2 separate regions of the Homo sapiens genome follow, and region 2 is linked to region 1. Evidence: fine-mapped expression QTL. Tissue or cell type: hippocampus. Region 1 holds a variant in brackets; the other region holds the start of a gene. All regions are shown on one strand. Distances are from middle to middle.

Region 1 (8,264 bases):
TGTCACCGGTCTACACTTGGGGGGACAGAGGGCCCCGTGGGCCCTGCCAGGGAACAGTCATGCACCCCGAGGAGCCCAGAGGCAACCCTGGGGGATTTTGATTGGCAAGTGACGCTCAGACAGGCATAGCCCTGGGAGGAACCCGGGCCGCAAGTGCATTCGAAGAGTCGATGATCAACGTGTCTTGCAGTTCACATTAATTCTCCCAGCTAGCTGTGTTGTTCATTGACACAGGAGCTGAGTGATCCACCACTAAAAGTCATACAAGGTTGATTTGGCGAGGGCACTCCCAACAACGGGAGGCCCTCCTGGCACAGCACGTCACCCAGAGGGGTTACCTCAGGCTGGCCAGTCAGACAGCAACTGGACCAGACTCCAGAGAGGGGTTGGAAGGTTTCACAACACAGAGAGGTGGTGCCGACCACAGTGGGGGGCAAACGCTGACACCACCCCATGGGAGCCCAGGGGTTCCCGCCCCCACAGAGCGGGGTACAGGCCACACGTGCAGCATGCACGACAGCACGATGGCCACTGGGTAAAGCCCCCACCGACATCAGTGGCGACACGCAAGTGTGGCGTGGCCCCAGCTGGCCGGGGGGACGGAGTCGGCAGGGGAGGCGAGGGAGGGGCGGGCCCCTCCTGAACGGACTCCACTGTGGGCCCACTGCACCTGACCCACAGGCAGACCGGCGACCCCTCAAGGGGTCCTTAAACCTCTGCACCAGAATGCGCTAGGTACCTGGATGGCGGGGGCGGATGAGGGGGGTGGGACCGGCATCCGGCCCCCTACCCTCGAGACCCCCTAGCGGGAAGGCTGGGGAGAGCAAGCGGGCCGGGCCGGGCCAGTGGCATGGTTTGGCAGAGGTGACGATGGTGGCAGCGGCAGCGATGGGAACCTGGCCAGCCCCAAAGGGAGTGGGCAGGATGGGGCTGGGACAGTGGGACAGGGCACGATGACAGCCCCAGTGGGGAGGGCACTGAGACCCCCACCCCACCGTGACGCCGAGAACCACCCCCGCGCCCACCGACACACACATGGGGGCCACAGCAGGGGACTGCTCCCCACTGCTCACCAGGCTGCGAGCCATCCAGCCCGCCCCACGACACGCACACACGGTTTCATCCCCACACGCATGTCTCTTTCTACCCCCTCTCTCCCTCCCGAGTTCTCTGGCTCTCGGGGCAGGTGGGGCCATGCAACGAACAAAGGGCACGACTCCGCCCATGCATGCGCCACAGGGGAACACGGTCAGCCAAGGAGGAAGGACATGGCGGCGTCTCCGTGGCTTCGCTCTTCTCTGTTAATGATCCCTCCGCAGGTTCACCTACCGAAACTTTGTTACGACTTTTACTTCCTCTAGATAGTCAAGTTCGACTGTCTTCTCAGCGTTCCGCCAGGGCAGTGGGCTGACCCAGCGGGCTGATCCGAGGGCCTCACTAAACCATCCAATCAGGAGTAGCGACTGCAGTGTGTACAAAGGGCAGGGACTTCATGCAAGCTTATGACCAGCACTTACTGGGAATTCCTCATTCATGGGGAAAAATTGCAATCCCTGATCACCATCGCCAATGAGGTTCAACAGGTTACCCACATCTGCCACATAGGGTAGGCACACGCTGAGCCAGTCAGTGTAGCGCGCGTGCAGCCCTGGACATTTAAGGGCATCACAGACCTGTTATTGCTCAATCTCAGGTGGCTGAACGCCACTTGTCCCTCTAAGAAGTTGGGGGATGCCGACCGCTCCAGGGTCACATAACTAGTTGGCATGCCAGAGTCTCGTTCGTTATTGGAATTAGCCAGACAAATCACTCCAGCAACTAAGGCCATGCACCACCACCCGTGGAATCGAGAAAGAGCTATCAATCTGTCAATCCTGTCCGTGTCCAGGCTGGGTGAGTTTTCCCATGTTGAGTCAAATTAAGCTGCAGGCTCCACTCCTGGTGGTGCCCTTCTGTCAATTCCTTTAAGTTTCAGCTTTGCAACCATACTCCCCTCGGAACCCAAAAACCCAAAGACTGGTTTCTTGGAAGCTGCCCAGCGGGTCATGGGAATAACACCGCCACATCGCCAGTTGGCATCGTTTATGGTCGGAATTACAACGGTATCTGATCGTCTTCGAACCTCCGACTTTCGTTCTTGATTAATGAAAACATTCTTGGCAAATGCTTTCGCTCTGGTCTAAACTGCCAGTCCAAGAATTTCACCTCTAGCGGTGCAATATGAATGCCCCCGGCCGTCCCTCTTAATCATGGCCTCAGTTCCGAAAACCAACAAAATAGAACTGTGGTCCTATTCCATTATTCCAAGCTGCAGTATCCAGGCGGCTTGGGCCTGCTTTGAACACTCTAATTTTTTCAAAGTAAGTGCTTCGGGCCACAGGACACTCAGCTAAGAGCATCCAGGGGGCACCGAGAGGCAAGAAGCAGGGACGGGCTGTGGCTCGCTAGCCCACCCGCTCCCAAGATTCAACTACGAGCTTTTTAACTGCAACAACTTTAATATACGCTATTGGAGCTGGAATTACCACGGCTGCTGGCACCAGACTTGCCCTCCAATTGATCCTCATTAAAAGATTTAAAGTGCACTCATTCCAATTACAGGGCCTAGAAAGAGTCCTGTATTGTTATTTTTCGTCACTACCTCCCCGTGTCAGGAGTGGGTAATTTGAGTGTCTGCTGCCTTCCTTGAATGTGGTAGCCATTTCTCAGGCTCCTTCTCCAGAATTGAACCCTGATTCCCTGTCACCCGTGGTCACCATGATAGGCACAGCGACTACCATAGAAAGTTGATAGGGCAGACATTCGAATGGGTCATCGCTGCCACGGGGGGCGTGCGATTGGCCCGAGGTTATCCAGAAGCACCAAAGCTGGCGGCACCCGACCCCCCGGCCGGGGACGGAGAGGGGCTGACTGGGTTGGTTTTGATCTGATAAATGCACGCATCTTCCCTGTGAAGGGGGTCAGTGCCCTTCAGCATGTAATAGCTCTAGAATTACCACAGTTTTCCAAGTAGGAGAGGAGCCAGCGACCAAAAGAACCATAACTGATTTAATGAGCCATTCGCAGTTTTACTGTACCAGCCCTGCGTACTTAGACATGTATGGCTTAATCTTTGAGACAAGCATATGGTTCTGATAGGATCAACCAGGTAGGTAGAAAGCGGCCTCTGGGACTCGCGAGGATGAGCCCGGCGTCCCAGTTGCGAGATTGGGCGCGGCAGGGCGGGCGATGGGGCGTGGGGGAGGGAGGGAGCAGCTTGGGGTGGTGGGAGGGGGGTGGTGGGGCGGCGAACCGGACATCCCATCCACCCACAGGACACAAAACCCCCCGACGGGCTCACCACTCCCGACCCTTCGTGCCCATGTGCGAGGAGGCCGACCGCCCGACCCGTGTGCGGCAGCCGCGAGGGACCGGCGGCCACTCATGCGCGGAGGGCGCGGGGCGGCCCCGACGTTTGGGCAGCGAAGGAGAGGCGGACCGCGGTGCCTGGGGTCTCACCGCCAGTGGCCTCGGGGCATGAAGGCGGCCCCTCGCGGCACCTGGAGCGGCCGACTGGCCTTCGGCGGGCCTGCGGCTTCCCCACCGCCGCCACTGTCGCGGCCAGCCCCCTGAACCCTCTTCCCTGCACACACTGCTGGCCGACCCCAAACCCTCCGGGTGTCCACCAGGCCCACTCGGGGTGCCGCCGACCTGGTCCCGAAGGCGCACGCCCGGGGACACGGACAACGGGCCAACCAGTGGCTAGCGGCGGCGCCCCACCAGGCAGAGCCGGGTTTGGTCCCAGACGGGGCCACCACAGCCTAAGGCGGTGAGCCGCTCGGGGAGAGAGGATCCGCGGGCAGGGTGGGGGGCACAGACAGGCAAGGCCAGGGACCGCGAGGGCAAGGGCACCTGGGAGCCCGCAGAGGGGCGGCTCGGGGAGAAACCTCAGGCACGGCCGGGCCACCAGGAAAACACGGCCACGGGATCCCACCGCCACAGACAGGAGGGAGGTACCGCAGCGACCCGCCTAGGATGCCGGACGGCCCTCGGCACCACCGAGACCCGCCTCATGAGCCCCAGGTCCCGCCATCAGGACCCCGAGGTGACCTCAGCCACAAACCTAACGCCAGGGCCACGTTGCTCGTTTCTCATCCATCCTCCAACCCGGTCAAGCTCCAGGAGACCGGCATGCCCCCCACTTGGGACGCTTCCCAGGGCCAGGCGGCCCAACCCCGTGCCACGCAAACACGGTCGTCGGCACCGGTCGCTGCTCTGCAGGGGAGCGGGCAGAGAGCCGGCTCACAGCGGAACGGGTCACAAGCCGGACTGAACGCCAGGCACAGCCACCGCTCACGCAGCCTCCCAACCGCTAGGACGCCGGCCCGGCCCGGCGGGATTCTCCCCTGACTCGGAAGGGGAAGGCGCGGGCCACACAGTAGGCGACGAGCTTCCCTGGGTCCCCACCGCGGAGGCTGGCGGAACCCTTGCTTTCCCCCACTCACC[T/C]CATCAAGGGGGAAGTGGAGGAGGGTCCTCTGCAAGCCAGTCGCCACGGCAGCGCTACCATAACGCAAAGAGAGGCGGCAGGCCGGGGGATCCGGTACCCCAAAGGCACACCTCTCAGATCGCTAGAGAAGGCTTTCTCACCGAGGGTGGGTCACACTCCCCACACGCCAGTCGCCCCTCGTCGGGCCCGCAGAGGCGCTCAGGGACGCCTGGGGAAGGGAGGGGGCCTGCGGTACCAGGAAAAATCTGCGTGCGGCAACCTTGAGCCTTCGCGGTCTGGGCAGGGGGCCTGGCCGCTGCGCGTGCGCGCAATCCCCGAAGGGCCCCCTAGTCCACCAGCCTCCTTTCTCCCAGGCAAAGCACCTCCAAGTAAACCCACACACAACCTGTCGGAGGCAGAACGGTAGCCCCTCGGCGGCCGGCCGGCGCACGCGTCATCTGCCCCAGCCCACCGCAATAGCTCACACGGCCCGTGCGCAGCCGCCAGAGGGGAGCACGGGACCTGCGCTCGCCAGATCAGGCGGCACCCTTCCCCGCGTGGGAGGGGCGCGTCTCACTCAACCGCCTCGACCCCCACACCAACGAGCTCCCTCAGGACCCACTGGTGGACATCGCGGCGGTGACCGGAGGAGGGGGCGCTGGGGGTGGGAACCACACACCACCACTCGACCTCGGGCACCTGAGGGATAAGCTGGGGGGTGAAGGGGAGGAGCCGGGCGTGGTAGGCTCACGCCTGTCATCCCCGCACTTTGGGAGGCGAGGGAAGGTGGATCCCTCGATCCAGGCCTTGGCAACATGGTGAAACCTCGTCTCTAAAAAAATACAAAAACTAACTGTTTTCATAAACTGGACTCAAAGTTAATAAATAGATAAGTAGGCCGGGAGCGGTGGCTTACTCCTGTAATCCCAGCACTTTGGGAGGCCGAGGCGGGCGGATCACGACGGTCAGGAGATCGAGACCATCCTGGCTACCACAGTGAAACCCCGTCTCTACTCAAAATACCAAAAATTAGCCAGGCGCCGTGGCGGGTGCCAGTAGTCCCCGCTACTTGGGAGGCTGAGACAGGAGGATGGCGTGAACCCGGGAGGCAGAGCTTGCAGTGAGCCGACATCATGCCACTGCACTCCAGTCTGGGCAACACAGTGAGACTCCATCTCAAAAAAAAAATAATAATAAATAGATTAAAATTGAAAATTTATAAAAAACATAGCTGGCGGGTCTCAAATGCTCATGCCTGTCATCCCAGCACTTTGGGAGGCCGAGGTGGGCAGATCACCTGAGGTGGCCAGTTCGAGACCCGCCTGACCCACATGGAGAAATGCCGTCTCTACTAACAATACAAAATCAGCCGGGTGTGGTGACACATGCCTGTAATCCCAGCTACTCAGGAGTCTGAGGCAGGAGAATCGCTTGAACACGGGAGGTGGAGGTTGCGGTGAGCCGAGATGGTGCCATTGCACTCCAGCATGGGCAACAACAGTGAAACTCCGTCTCAAAAAAAAAAAAAAAAAAAATTAAGCACTGTATTCTGTTATTTTTACTTCCTACCCAGAGAAGAATATAATACAACTGTTGTCTGCCTGCCTGCCTGCCTGCCTGCCTGTGACAGGGCCTCACTCTGTCTTTCTCCCAGACTGGAGTGCAGTGACACCATTATGGCTCACTCACTGTAGCCTCAACCTCCCCAGGGTTAGGCGATTCCTCAAGGGATCCTATGGCCTCAGCCTCCCAAAGTGTTGGGGTTACAGGTGTGAGACACCAGCACCCGACCTGAGTTAATACATCTGGTCTCACTACGTCTTAACCACACACCCATGAAGAACTCAAGTCAAGAGAGAGTCTGAGAGAGGCTCTCAGCATTCTCTCCCGAAAGCAGTGAGGTGGATGGCGGCTGTGTGTCCCGAGCTCCTGTGGTTTTAGGTGGCCACGCATAGAGGAGAGATTTCCAATGTTTCCAGAGATGCGCGAGCCACAGTCTTTCGGGGCATCCGAGTGTGAGATGGGGTTTCTGACAGTGACTTAAGGGCCAGGAAGGGCCAGAATCTGCCAAGGCCCGTGTCCCAGGGTGGGGCCGATGGAACCCAAGGTAGAGGGAGTCAGCGGTCCACACAGAGAGAGCTCCAGCCTTAGGACCCACTGTGCAGACCGAATCAGAATGAAGAGAGTCCTTCGTCCTATATGCCACATCCCTCCACTGAACTTGGGAGCGGATCTGTTTTCCAAACATGAGGTGACTCTCGCTTTGCAATGGATCACAAGGGGCTGGGCTTTCCAGAGTCGGCAGGCTAAAGAAGTCATTCTGGCTCAGCCTCCCCCATCCCCTGGTAACTGGTGAGTTTTTTTTTTATTTTTATTTTTATTATTATTATACTTTAAATTTTAGGGTACATGTGCACAATGTGCAGGTTAGTTACATATGTATACATGTGCCATGCTGGTGTGCTGCACCCACTAACTCCTCATCTAGCATTAGGTATATCTCCTAATGCTATCCCTCCCACCTTCCCCCACCCCACAACAGTCCCCAGAGTGTGATGTTCCCCTTCCTGTGTCCGTGTGTTCTCATTGTTCAATTCCCACCTATGAGTGAGAATATGCGATGTTTGGTTTTTTATTCTTGCGATAGTTTACTGAGAATGATGATTTCCAATTTCATCCATGTCCCTACAAAGTACATGAACTCATCATTTTTTATGGCTGCATAGTATTCCATAGTGTATATGTGCCACAGTTTCTTAATCCAGTCTATCATTGTTGGACATTTGGGTTGGTTCCAAGTCTTTGCGATTGTGAATAGTGCTGCAATAAACATACGTGTGCATAAGTCTTTATAGCAGCACGATTTATAGTCCTTTGGGTATATACCCAGTAATGGGATGGCTGGGTCAAATCGTATTTCTAGTTCTAGATTCCTTTGCCATCCCCATCAAGCTACCAATGACTTTCTTCACAGAATTGGAAAAAACTACTTTAAAGTTCATATGGAACCAAAAAAGAGCCTGCATTGCCAAGTCAATCCTAAGCCAAAAGAACAAAGCTGGAGGCATCACACTACCTGACTTCAAACTATACTACAAGGCTACAGTAACCAAAACAGCATGGTACTGGTACCAAAACAGAGATATAGATCAATGGAACAGAACAGAGCCCTCAGAAATAATGCCACATATCTACAGCTATCTGATCTTTGACAAACCTGAGAAAAACAAGCAATAGGGAAAGGATTCCCTATTTAATACATGGTGCTGGGAAAACTTGCTAGCCATATGTAGAAAGCTGAAACTGGATCCCTTCCTTACACCTTATACAAAAATCAATTCAAGATGGATTAAAGACTTACACGTTAGACCTAAAACCATAAAAACCCTAGAAGAAAACCTAGGCATTACCATTCAGGACATAGGCATGGGCAAGGACTTCATGTCTAAAACACCAAAAGCAATGGCAACAAAAGCCAAAATTGACAAATGGGATCTAATTAAAGAGCTTCTGCACAACAAAAGAAACTACCATCAGAGTGAACAGGCAACCTACAAAACTCGTGAGTTTAAATGAGCTGAGGCTGGCAAGGCCGGAGCCGCTATTGGCGGGGAGGGGGGTGGGCGGGGTGGTGGGGGGTGCCTGAGGCACTGCAGAAAGTGGGTCTGAGCCTCGAGGATGACGGTGTTGCAGGAACCCGTCTAGGCTGCTATATGGCAAGCACTAAACCACTATGCTTACTGAGATGGGGTTTTCCTCGCAGAACGCCTTTATGCAGAAGTACACTCAGAAGAAGCCT
Region 2 (8,000 bases), 96 kb before region 1:
ATGAGAATATTTGCACAAGCCTCCCTCTGGCATTGCAGAGCCTGTCAGTATTAAAGCAAAAAGTAAATTATAAATTATAGGAAATATAAATAAATATTCCACAGGTTTCACAAACCAGTTATATTTCAATGAGATAGATTCATTTTTATTCTATGTATTTAAACCAAATCCATCTCCTGCTGAAAGAACTGGCTACCATTTACCTTCATCAGAATGGTCCTGTTTTCACCATCAAGGACGTCAAGCTGACACTTTCTATCTACCAGAAGTGTTACTACTTCTGCATGGCCATTGGCACAGGCCCAGTATAGAGCAGTCCTACAAGAATGAGAGGCCTTTTAAGGAAAGTTTAGTCCACTGTCTCAAAACATAGAATGATTTATGTAATTGTCAACATTAAATACCATGCTCTTTCTCTGCCTTCAAAACAAATATTTAATATTCTCCTGAAGAAACTACAATATTCCTTCACTGTTATTACTCACTACATTAATGAAAGAGTGCCTGTTTGAACAGAAAGAGCTTGGCCTTTGGATTCAGTTCAACTTGGGCTTGAATATTACTTTAAAGTCTTTCACCTTCTACTATCACTTAACCTTTCTCTGCCTCAATTTTCTCATCAATAAAGTGAAGATGAATACAGTAGTTATCTCACAGGACATCACTGTGATGCCTCATGAGAATATGTGCAATGTATTTGGAAGAATTCCTAGCACATGTAACAGCTCAGTAATTGATAGATAATGTAATTATTTCTACTACTTAACAAAGAAAACATTTTAAGTAAAATGGTACAATTATGCCTAATTTGTGGTATGTTTTAAAGGTTAGAGATAAAGCTATTTTAATAATTCTGAAATACTCTATTTCTCGTATTTTAACATCTCTGACATTGAAATGCCGCTTATAAGTCATTATTTGTTACAAGTATATTTTGCAGAAATTTAAACAATCTTGTATTGGTACATAAATAAGGAGGCATCACACAATTCACCGTGCCTTCCATGAAGTGGAATATGGTATATACAACAGGATGATGGCAGTCTTAGTCATAGGATTAACACTTAAAGAAATTTTAGCTTTTAAGAGTGCTATACAAAAGGAGAGTTGAAATAAAAACAAACTGTTAAAACAAAGTACTTCTTTAATATTTTTAAAACTTCAAGCCAAAGAAAACTTGGGATTCAAGAAGGTATGGCTTATTTTATTCCATGTTTAGATTTACAGAATGTATGTAAATTCATATTTAAATTTATAGAATGCATGTAAATTAGGTATTTCCAATGATTAATATTACTATTTAAAGCTGTTATAAATTTCCAAAATCGTGGTTGGTAGTTATCTTTTACTAGTTTCTTACTTCAGAAGTGTTTTTGTTTTAAAGATGAGAGGAAAATCTTCAATTGAGATTCATTCCTAGTACTCCAACTTTAAATCTCTCACTTTGCTAAGGCTGAGCAGGTAAATGTGAAATTTTTAAGGATGAAAGGATCTTGAGAGTTAATGTATCTTCTACATAATAGGCATTCAGCTTACATGTGATAAATTGATTAAAAGGATAAATACAGTTGAGAAGTTCAATACCTTAAAAAAACTGCTATAAATAAAGCACTTATATTTTCTATTTTATTTTCTTAATAATAAAACTACACTAATTAATCTATAATTATTGACATATATGTAATAAATCTATATATAATAAAAATATGTGTCTAATAAGATGTATATGTAAATCAACAAGCACAGGTAAAAAGATTGTCTTTTGAAGATGCTAAAAGTTCACAGAATATACTAATCCACAAAAAGTAATAATTAAATTACGGAAAGTGAGAAATTATTTTTATTGGTGCAAAATTATATTTCTGCTCTTCCCAAAAATTTTTCATTAATAATAAACTTTTTCTAATAGCATTGTACATGCTCAATGTGGAAATCAAAGATAATAAAAAGGAAAAACATTTTATATTAAACACCCTCAAATAACAAATTTTATCATATTTCATACACAACTTCAGATAACACAAGACTGTAGTCTGTGTGTATGTATAATCAAACTGAACTTTACCCTCACTTGATACACCAGAATACATTTTCAAATGTCACCTATTTCTCTACATATTTCTACCTTCAGTGGTCACATATTATCCCATGCTGTAAATTCACTGAAATGTATTTATAAAAGTCATTATATGAATTCTTCTTAATAATATGGTACTTACCACCAAATTGTCTATTTGAAAAGTTATCTGCAACTTAAACTTTAAACAGCAGTATAAATATCACTGCTCTTTATCCTCACAAACTTTGTAGATAGAAAGCAGTATTTGATTCCTTTTTTAACTTAAATGCCTTCTGTAACCAGGAACACTAAATATTGTTTTCTGTGTGCATAGGTCACTTACAGATCTTAAGAAAATACTTTCCCAATTTTAAATTAGAAGCAAAGTACTATTTTTAGATCTGCAATTTATATCTCTAACTTAAATTGCTCAATTATAATTAGCGGGTTTTTTGTTGATTTAAGTGAATTATCTATAAAATGACGATTTAAAAATCTAATATGTATACACACACTCACATACATGTGTAGTAAATATTTTACAAGTATGCTGCCTTTTATTTTTTCTCATTACAGTTTAATTTAATTTTGTTTTGCTTAATTATCCTTCAGACTGCTTGCTTCTGAGCTTCTTAGAAAGGTGTTGTCAACATAAAAATGTACCTGTGTAAATAGGTATTTATGTTTTCTTCTGGTGCTTTTATCATTTTGTATATTAAAAAAATTTAATCTATATTCCATCAGAAATTTACTTTGTGGCATAAAAATCTAGTTTTCTCCAAAAAGCAGGCATTTCACTTATGAAACTAATTCTTTCCCTACTAGTATAACCTGTGAGCATTATCAAGTTCTAAATTCTTAGATATTTGGGTGTTTCTGGATTTTCTACTCTGTTGTATTCATTTACCTGTCTTTTCAGCTGTTATCAAATAATTTGTGATTTATTTATTTATTTTTGAGACAGAGTCTCACTGTCTCCCAGGCTAGAGTGCAGTGATGGGATCTCAGCTCACTGCAACCTCCGCCTCCCAGTTTCAAGCGATTCTCCCTCCTCAGCCTCCCGAGTAGATGGGCTTACAGGCTCCCGACATCCTGCCTGGCTAATTTTTGTATTTTTGTAGATTTGAGGTTTCACTATATTGGCCAGGCTAGTCTTGAAATCCTGACCTCAGGTGATCCACCCGCCTTGGCCGCCCGAAGTGCTGGGACTACAGGCATGAGCCACGACGCCTGGCCCTTTTTTTTTTTTTTTTTCAAATTTTATTTATTTATTTATTTATTATTATTATTTTGAGACGGAGTCTTGCTCTGTCACCCAGGCTGGAGTGCAGTGGTGCGATCTCGGCTCACTCCAAGCTCTGCCTTCCAGGTTCACACCATTCTCCTGACTCAGCCTCCCAAGTATCTGGGACTACAGGCGCCCACCACCACGCCCGGCTAATTTTTTGTATTTTTAGTAGAGACCGTGTTAGCCAGGATGGTCTCGATCTCCTGACCTCATGATCCACCCACCTCGGCCTCCCAAAGTGCTGGGATTACAGGCATGATCCACCGCGCCTGGCCATGGCCCATTTTGTGCAAATTAATAGCACATTTTGAAATCTAGAAGGGCAAGACTTTTCTACTCCGTTACAAAATGTTTTAAATGTCACCACAATAGTAAAAGACAGCGTGTGTAATTTTAAAAATGTTAAAACGTTGATAACTTTATTTGGTTTATGTAAAACTGATAAAGAACTTGCATCTTCAGAAAAATGAGTCTTCTTAAATTCGAAAACATAAACCATCTTCCCACCTCAAAGTTACCTTCTAAGGTCCCTCAGCAAAGAATATATTTACATAGACATTCATTGATATTGAAATGGATACTGGACTTTATCCAAAAAATTTTTAGCCAAGAAGTTAATATATTATGGGAATTATTTCATTATGCACCATTTCATAATGTATCTAACATCTTTTAAAACCTGTACATTAAAAGTAAAACCCTGTATGTACTTAATTTTATAAGTTAAATCACTTTAAAATTCTCTACACAGTGCTCTGTGAGAGGAAGTGGGAGTGAAGGAGAAAGCAGCTAAAGTTTGGGGTTGATTTTAAGGTGGCCTGTGCCCTCCGCCCTGCAGGGCGCCCTCATCCAAGGCCTGGGGGACCTGCCCGGGAAGAAGGCCAAGACCTCGGGGCCCAGGACGGCCGCCCCGCTGCCCGCCACTCCTCCACCTGCTCCCCTCGTCCCCAGGACCCCCAGGCCCCACTCTGAAGGGGCGATCCTCCCACAGCCTCCTCCTCCTCCTGCAGCCCCGGCTCAGGCAGGGCCTGGTACCTCTTCTTCGCATCTCTTATGTTCAGGTCCATTGTCGTCTTCTTCATCATCCTCTCCAGCTTCCAGGCTTGGCCCCGGGAGGCAGCTTTGTGGATCTTCCTGAGATCCCCATGGTGAATCACGTAAGAGTCGTTGTTGGTGTAGACCAGCTGACTGAAGGGGCTCGGGCGCTCTGGGCCCGTCTGGCCCTTGACAGGGGCGGCAGAGAGCCTCTCCATGGCTGCAGCCACCTGCTAGAGAGAGCCCGTGCCTCCCGCTGCTCGCCCTTCCCCAGTCCCCGCCGCTCGCCCTCGCCCTTCTTCAGTCCCTGCATCCGCCCTGACAAGACTAGAAATCTCAGTCGGGCCAAGCTTTTGGACACTCCAACCTCTCCCGGGAGAAAATGGCTGCGCAAAACCGTTAGGCAGCTGAGCAGAACCGTTAGGCACCTGAGCAGAACCTTTAGGCAGCTGAGCAGAACCGTTAGGCAACAGCGCATGCGCAACTCAGCAGACCTGGGAGACACGCGAGGCAGGAAACCGCCCTGGCTGCGCTTCGCCCAGCACGGCGTGCAGGTGGCACCTGCTACTGAGGCGCTATCGGGCTGGCGGGGCTCCCTGGAGCGGAACGTGGGGGGCTCCCTGCCACATGGCCTGCTTGACAGAGCTGCCCCTGTCCCCTCCTCAACCTGAGATCCAGGAGCTGGGCCCTGGCGCTGGGCATCGTGCAGCCTCCAGGGTGGCGCTGAGCGTCGGTTCCCGGCCTCTTGCAGCCAGGGACCCATCCCTGACTTAGGCGCCTGGAGGCTTCTGGCCCAAGTATCCGCGCGGCTGGTGGCGCTGGCAGGGTCAGGGTTGCAGCCTCTCCTGCCACGTGCCATGTTCAGGTGGCAGCTGCAGCTGAGCCCATGGTAGAGGCTACAGGGTTGGGCCCAGACCGCTGAGCATCGCCGAGTACATCGCCCTTCCACCCGGGGCTCTGCTCTTCCTCGGCTCGCGCTGGCAGCGCAGGCTTGCCACCACTGGGCCCTGTACAGCTGCGGCGATGAGGCTTTGCGGCAGGTTCCCACGATCCTGCAACTGAGGTCCCACTGCCTGACTTAGGCGCAGTGGCGGTGTCCGACCCTGGGGTTCGCCTGCTGGTGGCGCGGACAGGTTCGGGGGTTGCCACCGCTGCTGCCACCTTCAAATGCCAGCTGCAGCTGAGCCCACGGTAGAGGCTGCAGGGCTGGGCCCGACGGCCTGAGGGTAGCCGTGTGGCACACGCCCTCCCACTCTAGGCCCTGCTCTTCCTTGGCTCGCGCCCTGAGCGCTGGTTTGCAGGCTCTGGGCACTGTGCAGTCGCCAGGATGCGGCTGAGCAGCAGGTTCAGCGCCGCCTGGGCCCAGAGGGGAAGAGGGGAGTTTGGGGTTGCTTGGCCGTATTTGCCTGTGCGCCAAGTGCAGGTAGCGGCTACAGTTCTGACAGGCACGGATGGCGGGTCCCGTTTAGAGGGCTTCAAGGTTCCTGAGAGCGCCCGCTGCCAGGCCTCAGGATCCCTTCCTCGTTGACCAGCATCTGGAGTATGGCAGTGGCGCTGGGTCATCTGCAGCCCTCCTGGATGGGGCTGAGCTGCAGTTCTCACCCTTGGACTGAGAGGGAAACTCGGCTGAGTGGAGCAGATGGAGAAACAGTTAAATTGAACTTATCTATAAAGACTTCCAGGCTGGGTGCAGGACCTCATGCCTGTACTTACAGCACTTTGGGAGACCGAGATAGGAGGATCACTTGATCCCAGGAGTTTGAGACCAGCTTAGACAACACAGGGAAACTTTATCTCTATAAAAATAAAACCAATCAGCCAGGCATGGTGGTGCATGCCTGTGGCCCCAGCTACTTGGGAGATTGATTGTGGCAGGATCACTTGGGCCTGGGAGTTCGTGGGTACAGTAAACTGATTGTGCCACAAACAAGGAATGAGAGGTCCTGTTGCTCCCCATCCTTGACAGCATTTGACCTTTTCAGTCTTCTGGATTTTGGTTATTGTTTGATTGTTTGTGCCGCTGCACTCCAAGCCTGGGCAACAGAGACTCTCTCTCAAAATAAATAAATGAAAGACTTCTAGTCACTATATCTTATCTATGTCGAATTGTTTACACATCTAGCTTGAAGAATTAAAACCCACAGAGCCCTCTGATTATGTGATAGGGACCATGTGATTAAAGTGGGTGACCATGTTCTTGCCTCCAGGGGGCCCAAGTCAAGGGATGGGTCCCCAGCTGCAGGAGGGTGGGAATGGATGCTCAGCACCACCCCGGAGGCTACACAATGCCCAGCCCCAGGGCCCAACTCCTGGATCCTGGATCATGAACAAAAACCCAAGAATTGAAGACTTGAGTGTTAGATATGCTCATTTCTGCTGGGATATCATTGCTTCTAGACCGTCTTAGTTTACAGAGCAAAGAAATAAATGTGTGTATACAAAGCTGTGTATACACATAACTATAAATATTTCTAAATGTAATGTGTGTAAGTGTTAGTTCATACTGATGTCTACGACTCAATTCTTTTATCACATGATCATTCCGGCCTTCTCCCCTTGCTTACATGTAACCTCCCACTTTAATAATGAGAAACCAGGCTCCTGTCATTTGTCATCCGTTTGCTTAACTGTCTAGTTCCAATATACATTCATTCTCTATCAATATCAGAATCGCTATCCCATTTCCTGTAGGAGACAGCTATACCAACCAGATCACATGAGTTGTTTGCAGTTTCTCTTCCTTTCAGTCTTCATGCATTTTCTTTGTTTCTTTTTCTTTTTCTTTTTTTTTTTTTTTTTTTTTTTTAAGATGGAGTTCTGCTCTTCTTGCCTTCTTGCCCAGGCTGAGGCTGGAGTGCAGTGGCGTGATCTCGGCTCACTGCAACCTCTACTTCCCAGGTTCAAGCGATTCTCCTGCCTCAGCCTCCTGAGTAGCTGGGATTACAGGCACCCGCCATCATGCCCAGCTAATTTTTGTCTTTTTAGTAGAGATAGGGTTTCACCATTTTGGCCAGGCTGGTCTCAAACTCCCAGCCTCAGGTGATCCGCCCACCTTGGCCTCCCAAAGTGCTGGGATTACAGATGTGAGCCACCACAGAAGGCCCATCCATTTTCTAAGATGCTTATGTCAGCACGTTTTTCCCACTCCCTAGAGTGAAGTGGCTTTATACATTTGTAGTACTTTAGATTTTCTATCACATTCTGCATTCCATCTCAGGATCCCCAGAACACCTACTTTGTTGTTGTTGTTGTTTTAAAATTTGCATATATTAAGTGACATTCTTTGTTTTTTAACAAATGCAGGCCAGGTGCAGTGGCTCACGCCTGTAATCCCAGCACTTTGGGAGGCCAAGGCGGGCAGATCACGAGGTCAGAAGATGGGGACCATCCTGGCTACACGGTGAAACCCCGTCTCTACTACAAATACAAAAACAAAATTAGCCAGGCGTGGTGGCAGGCACCTGTAGTCCCAGCTACTTGGGAGGCTGAGGCGTGAGAATGGCGTGAATCCGGGTTGCGGAGCTTGCAGTGAGCCGAGATCGTGCCACTGCACTCCAGCCTGGGCGACAGAGCAGACTCCGTCTCAAAACAAAAAACAAACAAAAAAAAACGCAAATG

Direction of the effects. Positions count from the first base shown, and alleles are read on the strand shown. Sizes are in standard deviations (SD) of each study's normalised expression.
In carriers of allele C in region 1, the expression in hippocampus of the gene that starts at base 4,847 in region 2 tends to be lower than with T alone (large effect, 1.2 SD a copy in GTEx).

Evidence for each region. PIP is the estimated chance that this variant, and not a neighbour inherited with it, causes the effect.
Region 2: it holds the start of ANKRD30BL, and the variant in region 1 is fine-mapped to the expression of ANKRD30BL in hippocampus (GTEx, PIP 0.99). The same link has a PIP of 0.9 or more in cerebral cortex, nucleus accumbens and prefrontal cortex.

The regions. Positions count from the first base shown.
Region 1 is chr2:132,253,045-132,261,308 of GRCh38, forward strand. MIR663B (microRNA 663b) reads right to left here and starts at 4,036; the gene lies at 3,922-4,036. It also overlaps a transcript of ANKRD30BL not described here, the pseudogene LOC107985804, the pseudogene RNA5-8SP5, the pseudogene LOC110467533 and the pseudogene CDC27P1. RefSeq lists a silencer at 2,052-2,346. The variant T/C (reference allele first, on the strand shown) is at 4,486.
Region 2 is chr2:132,157,106-132,165,105 of GRCh38, forward strand. ANKRD30BL (ankyrin repeat domain 30B like) reads right to left here and starts at 4,847. Exons shown (of 6, transcript NM_001358416.1): 1 at 4,383-4,847; 2 at 204-318; 3 at 1-41. The coding sequence starts at 4,600. RefSeq lists an enhancer at 5,140-5,640.